Linked DNA regions of Homo sapiens. The protein of the gene in region 2 purifies or fractionates together with the protein of the main gene of each other region. This does not show direct contact. Each region holds a gene or a part of one and is shown on either strand. Other genes may lie near its edges.

Region 1 (3,500 bases), on a different chromosome or scaffold from region 2:
GGTCCAGTTTATTTGGTTTATTTATTTAGGTTTTTTTTTTTTTTTTTTGAGACAGAGTCTTGCCCTATCACCCAGGCTGGAGTGCAGTGGCACAATCTGCCTCCTAGGTTCGAGCGATTCCCCTGCCTCAGCCACCCAAGTAGCTGGGATTACAGGTATGCGCCACCCTCCCCAACTTATTATTTGTATTTTTTATAGAGGTGGCATTTCACCATGCTGCCCAGGCTGGTCTCAAACTCCTGGGCTCAAGCGATCTTCCCTCCTCAGCCTCCCAAAGTGCTGAAATTACACGTGTGAGCCACTGTGCCTGGCCAAGGTCCGGTTTAAATGCCAACTTCTCTGGCCAGGTGCAGTGGCTCACACCTGTAATCCCAGCACTTTGGGAGGCCGAGGTGGATGGATCATGAGGTCAGGAGTTCGAGGCCAGCCTGACCAACATGGTGAAACACCGTCTCTACTAAAAATACAAAAATCAGCCGGGCATGATGGCACGTGCCTGTAATCCCGGCTACTCAGGAGGGTGAGGCAGGAGAATCGCTTGAACCCGGGAGGCGGAGGTTGCAGTGAGCCAAGCTCGCACCACTGCACTCCAGCCTGGGCGACAGAGCAAGACTCTGTCTCAAAATACACACACACACACACACACAACTTTTCCTTGAAGTTTTCCTTCTAACGACAGTGATTCTTGCCTGTGCTTCTGTCTTAAATTTTACCTAAGGTTGTATCCAAACAATCCTAGTGGGATCTGGGGTCTTTGAGAGCAGGAAATGGGTTGGCTTTAGTCTCTGGAGCCTAGGATTGTATTTGTTGACTAAATAAAGGAGGCTGGCATGGTGGCTCATGCCTGTAATCCCAGCACTTTGGGAGACTGAGGCAGGAGGATCAGTTGAGGCCAGGAGTTCATGACCAGCATGGGCAACAGAGCAAGACCTCGTCTGTACAAAAAAAAAATTTTTTTTTTGTTTAATTTACCAGGTGTAGTGGTGGGCGGGTATGTTCCCAGCTACTTGGAAGGCTGGGGTGGGAGGATCACTTGAGCCTGGGAGGTTGAGGCTGCACTGAGCCGTGATCACACCACTATACTCCAGCTTGGCCTACAGAGCAAGACCCTGTCTCAATAAGTGAATAAATAAATAAGACCCTCCCCAGCCTCTCCCAGGTGTGCATTATGCTCCCCCGCCTTGGTTTTCATCATTCCGTCCTCCAAGCTGCCATTTCTAGTGAAATATCTGGACTTCCTCACTGGGAGACAGTGCTTTGGTTCATGTCTAGCCAGAGTGCTTCATGTATATTGGAAGCATGTAGGGAAGGAAGAATGGGTGGGTGGATGGATAGATGGAAGAACAGTTGGATGGATGAATGAAAAGATGGATGGGTAGATGGGTAAATGGATGGAAGATGGGTGGATGGAGGAATGAGTGAATGGAATTGTCAGTGGATGTGTGGATGGACAGGTGAGAAGATGGATGGATGGAGGAATGAGCGGATGGAATTCTCAGGAATTGTCAGTGGATGTGTGGATGGACAGGTGAGAAGATGGATGGATGGAGGAATGAGTAGATGGAATTCTCAGGAATTTTCAGTGGATGTGCAGATGGACAGGTGAGAAGATGGATGGATAGAAGAATGAGCAGATGGCATTCTCAGGAATTGTCAGTGGATGCATGGATGGACAGGTGAGAAGATGGATGGATGGAAGAATAAGTGAATGGAATTGTCAGTGGATGTGTGGATGGACAGGTGAGAAGATGGATGGATGGAAGAATGAGTGAATGGAATTTTCAGTGGATGTGTGGATGGACAGGTGAGAAGATGGATGGATGGAACAATAAGTGGATGGAATTGTCAGTGGATGTGTGGATGGACAGGTGAGAAGACGGATGGAGGAATGAGCGGATGGAATTCTCAGGAATTGTCAGTGGATGTGTGGATGGACAGGTGAGAAGACGGATGGAGGAATGAGCGGATGGCATTCTCAGGAATTGTCAGTGGATGTGTGGATGGACAGGTGAGAAGATGGATGGATGGAAGAATGAGTGAATGGAATTGTCAGTGGATGTGTGGATGGACAGGTGAGAAGATGGATGGATGGAGGAATGAGTGGATGGAATTCTCAGGAATTTTCGGTGGATGTGTAGATGGACAGGTGAGAAGATGGATGGATGGAAGAATGAGCAGATGGCATTCTCAGGAATTGTCAGTGGATGCATGGATGGACAGGTGAGAAGATGGATGGATGGAAGAATGACTGAATGGAATTGTCAGTGGATGTGTGGATGGACAGGTGAGAAGACGGATGGAGGAATGAGCGGATGGAATTCTCAGGAATTGTCAGTGGATGTGTGGATGGACAGGTGAAAGGATGGATGGATGAAAGAATGAGGGATGACTGGAAGGATGGTAGGTAAAGAGATGGAAAGATCGATCTGTACATGTGGATGGATGGAAAGATGAAAGAATGGATGGATGGATCCAACAGAGGAAAGCAGATGCTGGAACATAATGAAAGCATCTGGGAAAACTGCCCAAATAGCACCATGCAAAGCCCCAAAGGGGAAAAATATTAAGAGGGGTAAAGGGGGCATGGGCCTTGGATTAGAGAGGGTGGATGAAGTGCCCAGGCCAGGAAAGGTGTCTAAGGTTGAACTGAGAGAGGGGGAAGACTGGAGGGTACAACTTTTACCCTTCACAAGGGCCTTCAAAACTATGGTCTCGAATTCCTCAGACCCATCCTCAGAAGAATAGACTGTCAGGAGCTCCTTCCGGGTCATAATCCTCTCCACCTGTGGAATAGCCAGTTCTGCATCCCTAGCCCGCCTCCATCCCCAACTCCTGTTGGGCCCTGTCCAAAGGGATGGAGGAGGCCATTCCCCTCCAGGACCTAATAGTCTATATGCCCAGCACCCTCTTCTCCCGGAACCTGGAAGTCCAGGCCCCCAGCCCCTCCTCCCTCAGACCCAGGAGCCCAAGTCCCCAGTTCCCTCCCATCTCAGGATCCAGAGTTGGGCCCCCAGTGTCATACCTGGGCCTGCAGGACCTCAAGGTCCCCTTTGGGAAAGAAACGCCTGATTCGATCTCGGGCTTCGCCTTGCCTGGCTCCCCCACTCCCTGGGGCCAGAGTGTCTTCCAGGGTCTCCGCCAGGCAGTCCGCAGCTCCCCCTGAGCCAGCCACGAGGAGACATGGGAGCTGAGCCTGGGTGGCGTTCTCTATTCGCTACAGGATAAAGGCATTCTTTATTCATCACGTCAGAAAAGGCAGGATATTCACCCTACCCGGAGTCAGACCCCCAGACCCTCCCTAAGACTCAGGACCCAGGAGTCCTGGCCCCCAACCCTCCTTCCCCCTTAGATCCGGGCATCCGGGCCCCTATACCGTCAACATCTTCTCATCACCATCAATCAGGAGGAGCAGGACAGGGATGTCAATTCCAGTCCCTGAGGCAAGAAGAGAAGGGGGCTTGATTACCTCCCATCAGCCTTTGCTGGAGATAGGAGAAAAC
Region 2 (3,500 bases):
TTGCTGGCTGAAGCACTCCAGAAAGTGATGATTCCAAGAGCCAGGGAAGAAAAATGTTCTTGGAAAAAGAATTTGTGTATCAGTTCAGCAGAACAGCTCAAAATTATGCAAATTCCCTGCTTGAAGTTTGACTGTCACCCCTGCCTTCTTCTACCACCTGGGCTTCCAAGCCTGTAAGGGACTGCAAAATAAATAGCCATATTCTGGTTAAAAAGATGAAAGAGACATCATGGTTTACCTAACTGCTTTTCATGTGTGACAGAAGCTTTAGTATGGTATCTGCCTTTAACCCTGAAATGCTACTTTCTAGGAATTCATCTTAAGGAAATACTAAAACTACACAGTATGTACAAGGATGGTTACTACAGTCTTGTTATGATAATAAAAAAAAATAAACACAAAGTCAAAAAATTAGGTACTCATTAAATTATATCTGTCATACTATAACATTGGGGGTCTATGTAGCATTACAAATGTCACCGTAGGAGGAAAAGAGAGCATGAAAAGTTTTGCATGCTTTATCATTAGATGAAAATAAGCATTCAAAACACTATACTAGGATCTCATCATTTTTTCTACATTCATAAAGTCACAAGGTACAACCCAAAATGTGGTGGAACATTTTGGCTTTGCTTTTCTCTGTAATGCCTGAATTTGCTACAGTGAGCACATATTACTTTGGTCATTAGAATAAAGACTGTAAAAGAAAAAAAAAGTAATAAATATATAACCCCGGAAGCAATAGGCACATATATCTACATGGCTTCATTAGACATTTTCCATACAGAGAACATTCAGGGATCCATGTTTGCTTGGCTCCCTGAGAACTGGGGCATATTACTTTCAAAGTGGCCCCCACAGCCCATCTGCCAGTGCAAAGCAAAGATGGAGTGATTCAGCTTTCAGTTACAATAAAAGCCAAGCTGATAGACCATGTAAGAAGGCAGGTAGAAATCGGCCCCTTAGATCTAGAATTGACATTGATTTACCCTGCTAGGCTCTTGGAATCAAATCTGCAAGGAGGTGATTTAAATCCTATTCTTCTTTTGTTTAACTTTTTAGATTAATGGATGTGGGAGAAGTTACTGGGACAGGAACTACAAAAGGTTTGGGCTGGGGCTGTGTAGCTGTTTGTTAGACCAGGACAGGGGCTGAGAACCCCGGGCGGAGACTTGCACCACTGGTGCTTATCAAGTCTCATTTTCCTTCAACCTCTAGCACAATTAGAGTGTGAGCTGGCATCTTAAATTGAGTCTTTTGCTTGTGTTGCCCAACAATCTTTAATTCCTAATCACCTTCTTTTCCCTTATTTGTAACTTTTGATTTGGAAATATCGGGTTATGTAACATGTCAATCTGCATGAGGATGCAACTCTGTCAGAAAAAGGGACTCAATGAAGCACAAATTCTAACAAAACTGGAAATGACTTTCCTAAGAAAAGAAAAGAAATTTTCATTTCACGCATTTGAAGCTGGTTTTAAATAGGCTGGATGCAAGGTTGGTGGTTCTTTCGGGGCTGTTGATTTCTCTGCCCAATCTCCACCCAACAAATGCAGGATGCTTCCTGGAAGGGGATAAGGAGGTAGAAAGGAACAAGCATCTGTGAAGGGACCACAGTATGCCAGAGGCCTTATCGATGTTAAAACTGACAGTGTTCAATAATATGAAAGATTTAAAAAGATGAGGAAATGTTCTAGGTTAAAAGAGTTTAAAGAGACATGAAAAGCTGAATGAACTCATAAGCCAGGATTTTCTATTGCTATAACGGACGTTATTGGGACAATTGGAAAAATCTGAATAAAGTTTATAGACTGGATCATAAAAAAAAACCCTGACAGTGTTGCAAACTAAGTAATATTGTGCCATTTTACAGGGGAGAGGACTGAAGCTCCAAAGACAATTTGCCTAAGGCCACAGAGCCATGATTCCAACCCAATAGTTAAGAGATTAAAGTCACATCCTATCACCTTACTCCCACAAAACCACAAAAGATTGAGGAGACTATACCAAATAGAATCAGATTCTATTGGAAGAGAGTCCGTGGGAACCCATTACTCTAACACCTAGCCTTCTACCTCATATTCCAGGTCACTCCACTCACTATAGAACTATCCTTTGATGGTTCTTGTTCAGACCAAGCACTAGTTCTGCCCGTTGGCATCCGCACTGGTCAAGGCCGGTCTATTAGGGTGGCTGATCCGCTTACCGCACCACTCTACCTCCACCCCCAAACAGAGGCCTTGATGAAAACAAGATGAGAGCAGAGGAAGAACCCAAGAACTCTTTCTAGAAAACCAAAGCTCTCCGTCCCTGATCCCTTCCCCCACCACAGAAGATGGCAATTCCACAAGCCTTCCGCACCCTGCCCTCCCCTCAGTTCAAGACACATGCTGGAAATAAAAGCTTCCCCGAATTAGCCCCCTAAAAGCACACAAACATCTATGCCCTAAGTCCTGGCTGAATATCTTGAGGACTTTCAGTTCCCCAAACATTTCCAAGGACCTACGGCACACAGGTGCCGCTAAAGGAGACACCCGTTCACTCCAGGCAATCAGCTCCAACAGGTCCAGTTCCACTAAGTGGAAGGGCTTCCCGTCAACACCCTCACCGGAGAAAACGGATTCCTCCTCAGCATTCCCTTATAACACCTGGAAAGGGGAAACCTGTTTTTTGTGCTATGTGTGACTTCGCTGCAAATCTCTCTGCTCCCCAACACATGCACACACACACACACAGGCGCGCAGAAAACTAGTTCCCACTGTCACCACCAGTGAAAACACCCCTCGTAACTTTGACGAGAAGGGCTCCCCCGCTGAAAGCCCAACTGCAGAGCGCCCGGAGCGCGCTGTGAGTCCGCAGGAACGCGGCCGGGCCGGGGACGGGAGAAAGGCGCGGCCGGGACCCTGCACTGTGCCGCGCGGCGCTTGCGGCTGGAACTTGGCCTGGAACGCGGTCTTCTCGGCTCCAGTTTCCCGCCCAGGCCCCGCCCACCCGGCCGCCCCGCTGGTTCGCACCGCTGCTCCGGCCACCGAGGAGCCCAAAGTTGGCGGCGTCCCGCGGACTCCGGCGGAGAGCGCGAGGGAGTCGCGGCCGACTCCTGTACCACGAAGACAACTGGAGGCCGGCGGGGGAGGCGGGCCACGAGGGGCTGGGGCGAGGGAGCTGGGATGCGCGGGCCCGGCTCGCCGGGAAACAGGTTGCCGCGGAGTCCCGTCCCCTCCCCCTCTGCGGTCCCCGCCGCGACCTGATTCCCGCCCTGCCCGGGGAGCTAACCCAGCCGCCTCCGGGGCGCCCTCCTTCTTCCTGGATTCCCACGGCTGGACCAGAGCCCCTCTGGCAGCCGGGTTAAAGGCTCCTTCAGCAAGGTCAAGGCGCGGCCGGCTGGCACCTGGGGATTTTTTTCCAGCCGAGCACTGGCTTTTCAATCGCATTGTTAAGGATCATGGCAGCGGCAGGAAATCCGAAGGGCCCCACAGGTCTGCGGGAGGGAGGATTTATTT
Region 3 (3,500 bases), on a different chromosome or scaffold from region 2:
CGCCTATAATCCCAGCCCTTCAAGAAGCTGAGACAGCCACATCACTTAAGCTTAGGAGTTCAAGATCAGCCTGGGCAACATGGTGAAACTCCATCTCTACAAAAAATACAAAAATTAGCTGAGTGTAGTGGCGTGTGCTTGTAGTCTCAGCTACTCAGGAGGCAGAAATGGGAGGATCACTTGAGCCCGGGAGGTCGAGGCTGTAGTGAGCCATGTTCGCACTACTGCACTCTAGCCTGGGCAACAAAGTGAGACCCTGTCTCAAAAAAACAACAACAAAAGAATTTTATGTCCTATATATTTGTTTTTTTGTCTTTTGGGTTTTTTTGAGGCGGAATCTTGCTCCGTCGCCAGGTGGAGTGCAGTGGCACAACCTCGGCTCACTGCAACCTCTGCCTCCCGGGTTCAAGCGACTCTCCTGCCTCAGCCTCCCGAGTAGCTGGGATTACAGGTGTGTACCACCATGCCTAGCTAATTTTTGTGCTTTTAGTGGAGACGGGGTTTCACCATTTTGGCTAGGATGGTCTCGATCTGTTGACCTTGTGATCCACACGCCTCAGCCTCCCAAAGTGCTGGGATTACAGGTGTGAGCCACCATGCCCAGCATGTCCTAGATATTTGTACATTTGTAGCTTAAATTATTGTGAGACTCAACTTTTCAGTATGATCTACCTGGGAATCTTACTGGAAATATTGATTTGGGATCCTTACATAGTACATTCAGCAACTGAATTCTAGGCACATTAATTTTTACCTTCCACGGGCATATTTTTTTTCACACACTCCAATGTTGTATGAACCAGCTCTTTTGTAGTCTTTTTTTCAAGAAGCTGAGAATATTTTTGAAAGAAAACTGGAAAAGAGAATAAAGACCATTTATTTTCCTGGTAGCATTATGACTTTGCTCTTTATCGTTACTTTCTTGCATTCTTTATTGAAATAAAACTTACAAATGCCCTATTACTGGAGTAGAGGGAAAAGATTTCCCATACTGAAACTATAGATATCTCTAGGAATAGCTGAAAGATCAGTAGTTGGAAGAGGACACAACAGTTCCATCATAATGGATCTAAAGGGACTCCACATTCTCCTTCAATACTTAATATAAGATGCATGCAAAGGCTAACTCTTGGGGGTGGGGGGATGCAGGGCAATAAACACTTGTATTTAAGGATGTGCGCACCCTGGGACTTTGGAGCAGATGGGAGAGGGGCAAATTAATTCTGAGGAGTTCTGGGTTACCTTGAAGAATGGAGAATTTTAAAAAGAACCCCACATGGATCAAGAGGGCATTATTTTCTTCCTCTTCTCTCCATTACTCTCTCCATCCCAACTGGCTCTTACTCCTCAGCACACCAACGCTCTCATGTTTCTCCCAGTTTAAAACTAACCCACCTCTCCCTCTAGAAACTGAACTTTTGGCCGGGCACATTGGCTCACGCCTGTAATCCCAGCACTTTGGGAGGTCGAGGCAGGTCAGGAGTTCGAGACTAGCCTGGCCAAGATGGTGAAACCTCGTCTCTACTCAAAGTACAAAAATCAGCTGGGCGCAGCGGCAGGTGCCTGTAATCCCAGCTACTCGGGAAGCTGAGGAAGGAGAATTGCTTGAACCTGGGAGGCGGAGGTTGCGGTGAGCTGAGATTGCGCCACTGCACTCCAGCCTGGGTGACGGAGCAAGACTCCATCTCAAAAAAAAAAAAAAAAGAAATTGAACTTTTTGTCTTTCCTCCCTACCTTTCATTTGCTCCTTGACCCATCATAGTCTGGGTTTTACTTCCACTATTTCACTAAAACCATCCCTAAAGTGGATCCTCAGTAATATCCTAGGGTTACTTAGTCCTCTTCCTATTTGACTTCCTTAAAGGCTTGACCCCAGTTGCCTTTCCCCTTAGCTCTTGGGACACTACTCTTTGTTGTTTTTGTCTTACCTTTCTTGCTGCTGCTTCTTACACTCTTTGATGAGCTCCGTTTCCTCCATCCACCTCTTTTAAAATGTAACATTTCCCAGAGTTCCATCCTTATCCGTCTTTCTCATACTAAGTTATCTCCGTGAGTGATATCATATATTCCCACGGCATCACCTGCTACCTCTATGTGAAGGACTTCCAAAGCTCAGACCTCTCTCCCTAAATCCAGACAAATGTGTCTCCCAGTAGACACATCCATTTGAGGTTCTCACAGCCATATAAAACTCAACATGCCCAAAACTTAAATCACCATCTTCCAACCCAAACCTGCTACTGATCCTATATTGTCTACCTCTTTGAAAAACTTAATGATTTCTGAGTTTACAAAGTCAGAATATTGGAGCCATACTTTACTTCTCTGGGTCCCTTATTTCCCAGAACTGAATATTCATCAAGCCTCTACCTCCTTTATCATTCAAAATTACTTCATCTTCTCTTTTTTCGCTAACACTAGCCATAGATCAGTCTGACAATATTTCTCAATTGAATTAATGAATTATCCTTCTAACCTCTCTTTCCCTCCAAATTTGTCCTCATTTATCCATTTTCCACACCTCTGTAAAAATCATGTTTCTATAAGTCCAATCCAATTATATCAATTCCCTGCTTAAAATTCTTCAATTTTCTCTATGACTGTGACATTGCAAAAATGGCCACAACTTTCAACATACCCTGTATCTACACTGCTTTGCAATGTGATTTTGCAGCTTCTTCAATCAAGAAATGTGGTCTATTTCTCCACCGCCTGGATCTGGGCTGCCTGTAAGACTTCTTTTGGCCAATAGAATGTGCAGGAGCAACTCTGCGCTAGTTCCAAGGTGAGATTTCAAAAGGCCTTGCTTACTTCCGCTCTCAGTCTTAAAAGCCTGCCAGTTGCCATGTGAACAAACCCAGGCTACCCTGATGAATGATAAGAGAAACGTGGCCAAATCTCTCCTGCCATTCCATCTAACATCCTGTTCCTCAGAAGCTAAGTTGCCTGTGGCCAGTACCCAACCACATATACATGAGTGAGTTCAGCCAGGACTGGGGAAATCTCCCAACTGACACCAGTCTCAATTGCCAAGACACAGATTTATGAGCTAAATAAATAGTTGCTGTTTTAATCCACTAAGTTTTAGATTGGCTTATTAACCAGCAAAAGATAATTGATAAAATAACCTTTAGGAGGGAAAAAATCCAAACTCTTTATCATGATATACAGCAGTCTTCATGATCTGAGTCCTGTTTCTTTCTGCCACCTACAACTTCATTTCTTAGTTCTTTACTTAGCACCATATGTTCCAGTCATGCATACTTACGTTTCCCCAAATTCCATGCTCTCTCATATCTCTAGGTCATTCTTGGTACACACAGCTCTAGATGTCACCTCCTCCGGAAAGCCTACCTCAGCCTCTTGCACTTATTATACTTCTTAACTGTACAACACTTACCATACAATGTTATAACCACTGGTTCATTTTATCATTCTCTAAATTTCTTGAGACCAGGGGCTGTGGCTCTGTCTTGACTCTCTGTCTGGCACAGTGCCTG
Region 4 (3,500 bases), on a different chromosome or scaffold from region 2:
TTTTTTTAACTCATGAACTCATCTACGCAACAAACCTTCCCATGCACCCCCAAACCTAAAATAAAAGTTTTAAAAAATAATTATTATTACTGGCAGAAACAATTATAAAAAACATTATGAACAGAAACATTTTGAGAACACATCTCCAATATATGCACACTTATTTATAAATTACATGTTGTTCTGTCAATTTATATGTTAATTATAAGCAAAACTTAACTCCTTTTTTTATTAAGATGGAAAACCAATAGGCAAGAACAGAAGTTCTGACATGTTTTTCCTACCCCACTGGACCACTTTGTGAGTGCACCCACTTTGGAAGGACTGTGATGAAATGATGCTGATGGGAGGGTAGGAAAAGGTCAGTCTATTCAGAAGGTAACCAAAATGGCAGCAATGACCCCATGAACTTTCAAGAAAGGTTAGGCAAATTGTGGTACTTTTTTTTTCTGGCCTTGCTCCTCCCTACCCCCAACACCCTTGCAGGCGAAGTCCCCAGCCTGGCCCCATCCCTGTACTCTGGCCAGCCCTGGTGCTGGAGCCTGCCTCAGCTCTGCTCCCTAGCTGGGTGGTCTTGGGCAACTTTGTTACCCTCTCTGAGGCTGAGTTCTCATCTGCAAATGAGACTGGTCCTGATCTCACAGAGTTGCTACGAGGATGAAATCAGATAAAACTGAGTTCAATTAACTTTTACCCTCTTCCTTTCTGTTTCTTCCCTGAAACTGCTGCTAGGCTCCCCTTTCCAATAAAGCACCTGGGAGACCAAAGCCATCAATAACAGGGACCACTTGTGGGCCGAGACTCTTCTCTGCCATAAAAAGAGCCGGCAGAAAACTTTTCAGATGTAGTCACTTTCCATGGAAACAGATGAGCAGATTCAGACACTGGCTATTCATCTCTCTTCTTCTGTGGCCTCTAGACAACTCCTTCGGACATTTGGTTTGTTTTTCTTTAGTTACGAGCTGGCTTTTCACTCCATAAATTTTTTTAAAGTAAAGATAAATCTTGAATAAAAAGGATGATGTGACTGAGGCATCATGAAATGCAGAGGGAAGGGTGTGTGCATGCGTGTGTTTGCATGGCTGTGCATGCACAGGTGTCTGTGTTGCGAGGTGCTGATATGCTGGGGAAATACAGTCCTGGTCTCCCTGGTGATGAGCCCTAGGGTAGGGGGTGAAGGGGACACCCAGCCACACTCTGTGCCCTTGGATGACCTGATGCATGGGCAGAAGGTCACCCTCCCCTCTGAACTCCAGAGGTGTCCTCAACTCTAGCTGCATATTAGAATTGCCTGGGGAGCTTTCAAAAAGAGATCAGTGACTGGCTCTCCCAGGGCCAATTACATCAGAAGTCTTGGGGTGCAGCCTGAATGTCCATAGATATTTTTTTAGTCTCCCCAGGAGATTTTATTGTGCTGCCAGGACTGAGACCCAATGCTTATCTGAAAGCAAATAACAGGGTTCAACCTCTCCAAAATGAACAACTGTGTCCATCAATACTGAGTTCCCACCTCAAGGCCCCCGGGATCAATTGAATTACCATATTTCTATACCCTGGAATTCCTGGCCAGTGAAATAAAGAGCTATCAGTCAGGTTTATTTATTGGGCTGCAAATGATCTAAGTTTTGGCTGAACTGCATCCCACTAAAATTCAAACATTGGAGTCTAATCTCTAGCACTTCAGACTATGATAGTATTTGGAGACAGGGCCTTTAAATAGGTGACTACATGAAAATGAGATCATTTGAAGGAGTCTAGTCCAATATGACTGATATCCTTGTAAGAAGAGGAGGTTAGGACACAGACACACATGGAGGGAAGACCATGTGAAGATACAGCAGGGAGATGCCATTTACAAGCCAAGGAGACAGGCCTCACAAGAAATCAACTCTGCCAAGACCTTGATCTTGAACTTCTAGCCTCCAGAACTGTGATAAAATAAATGTTCCTTGTGTAAGCCACCCAGTCTGTAGTACACTGTTATGGCAGCCCTAGCAAATTAATACAATCTGGTACCAAGTACCACTTAATGCTCACTTGGGCTACCAATGGCAGGGACTGGAACACTGGCCCAGGCCAGGTGGGGTGGTGCACACCTGTAATCCTAGCTACTCAGGAGGCTAAGGGAGGAGGATCGGTTAAGGCCATGAGTTTGAGGCTGCAGTGCACTATAACTGCACCTGCAAATAGCCACTGCACTCGGGCCTGGGCAGCAGAGCATGACTCCATTAAAAAACAACAACAACACTTCTATTATAGAGTGACCTTTGTTTGAGGTCTGGGGACATTTGGGTACAAGGAAGGCCTTAAAGACTGCCCCACTCTCCTTGTTTCCCATCCCCTGTCCCTTCTACTTCTCACATTCACCACTATGTGCCCTAGGACAAAATCAAATGTGGAAACATTTGGTCATGTCTACTTTGTCCAAGGGTGGGAGTTCTTGAGGAATTCAAGTGGGAACTAGAACAACTTTCTACCCTTTCCTTCCCTTCCTTCCTCCCCACCTCTACCTAGAAGCCCATCAATCACTTTGAACTTCTTGGAGAAAAAAGGAAACAAAAGAAAAAGAAAAGGAGAGGCTGGGTGCGGTGGCTCATGCCTATAATCCCAGCACATTGGGAGGCCAAGGTGGGTGGATCACTTGAGGTCAGGAGTTCGAGACCAGCCTGGCCAAAATGGTGAAAACATGTCTCTACTAAAAATACAAAAATTAGCTGGGTGTGGTGGTGGGTGCCCATAATCCCAGCTACTCAGGAGGCTGAGGCAGGAGAGTTGCTTGAACCTGGGAGGCAGAGGTTGCAGTGAGCCGAGACTGTACCACTGCACTCCAGCCTGGGCAACAGAGTGAAACTGCGTCTCAAAAAGAAAAAAAAAAAAAAAAAAAGAAAAAGAAAAAGAAAAGGAGAGAAAGGAAAGAAGCAGGGAGGAAAGAGAAGACCCAGCTTACCTTCAGCAGAGAAACAACACAAATTAGAAGCACACACACACACACACACACAAAACAGTAAGTACTGAGGGACCATCACAAACTAAATACAAGAGACACACTGAAACACCACTCTTTAAGGCAAAAATATGAGGATCCCTTGCTTTTTATGGCTGCTACTCAAGAGGGCACCCCTCCCTCCTCTCAGCACTCATCCTCAAGCTCCAGCTCCCTGTCTTGTTCTCTGAACAAAGAACTATGGGCATAGCATTATACTTCTGGGGTTTGTTTTGTTTTTTAAGTCAATGATGAATTTAGACGTCTCAAGCCAAATCCTCAATTTGAGAATGCAGTCAAATGAAGAGAACTCTATCCCAAAGAGGAAAGTGGATGAAAGCCAAGCACATTTGAGTATGAGATTAAGGATCAGAGGCACTAATTTTGCATGAACTTCTCTTGCCTTCGCTGGGATTCATTTTTAATGCAGTGATGATAGCCTTCCAGTGGCCGCTGGCGACATCTCAAAATCTTTGGAGATGAGAGAGAAGGCGGTGTTTGGGGAGCCTGTTTACTA

Evidence for each region.
Region 1: the proteins of TENM4 (region 2) and TRPM4 fractionate together in Homo sapiens (co-fractionation; one large-scale study listed by BioGRID). This does not show direct contact.
Region 3: the proteins of TENM4 (region 2) and CLEC4A purify together in Homo sapiens (co-immunoprecipitation; one large-scale study listed by IntAct). This does not show direct contact.
Region 4: the proteins of TENM4 (region 2) and EVA1C purify together in Homo sapiens (co-immunoprecipitation; one large-scale study listed by IntAct). This does not show direct contact.

What each region holds. Positions count from the first base shown.
Region 1 is NC_000019.10:49,171,292-49,174,791, reverse strand, and holds part of TRPM4 (transient receptor potential cation channel subfamily M member 4), read right to left. Parts: intron 3,436-3,500; coding exon 3,374-3,435; intron 3,215-3,373; coding exon 3,023-3,214; intron 2,784-3,022; coding exon 2,684-2,783; intron 1-2,683. UniProt on the Homo sapiens protein: Calcium-activated selective cation channel that mediates membrane depolarization. While it is activated by increase in intracellular Ca(2+), it is impermeable to it.
Region 2 is NC_000011.10:79,434,531-79,438,030, forward strand, and holds part of TENM4 (teneurin-4), read right to left. Parts: intron 1-3,500. UniProt on the Homo sapiens protein: Involved in neural development, regulating the establishment of proper connectivity within the nervous system. Plays a role in the establishment of the anterior-posterior axis during gastrulation.
Region 3 is NC_000012.12:8,126,617-8,130,116, reverse strand, and holds part of CLEC4A (C-type lectin domain family 4 member A), read right to left. Parts: exon of another isoform or gene 2,017-3,500; coding exon of another isoform or gene 1,929-2,016; intron 854-1,928; coding exon 755-853; intron 1-754. UniProt on the Homo sapiens protein: C-type lectin receptor that binds carbohydrates mannose and fucose but also weakly interacts with N-acetylglucosamine (GlcNAc) in a Ca(2+)-dependent manner. Involved in regulating immune reactivity.
Region 4 is NC_000021.9:32,415,706-32,419,205, reverse strand, and holds part of EVA1C (protein eva-1 homolog C isoform 1 precursor), read right to left. Parts: intron 1-3,500. UniProt on the Homo sapiens protein: Binds heparin.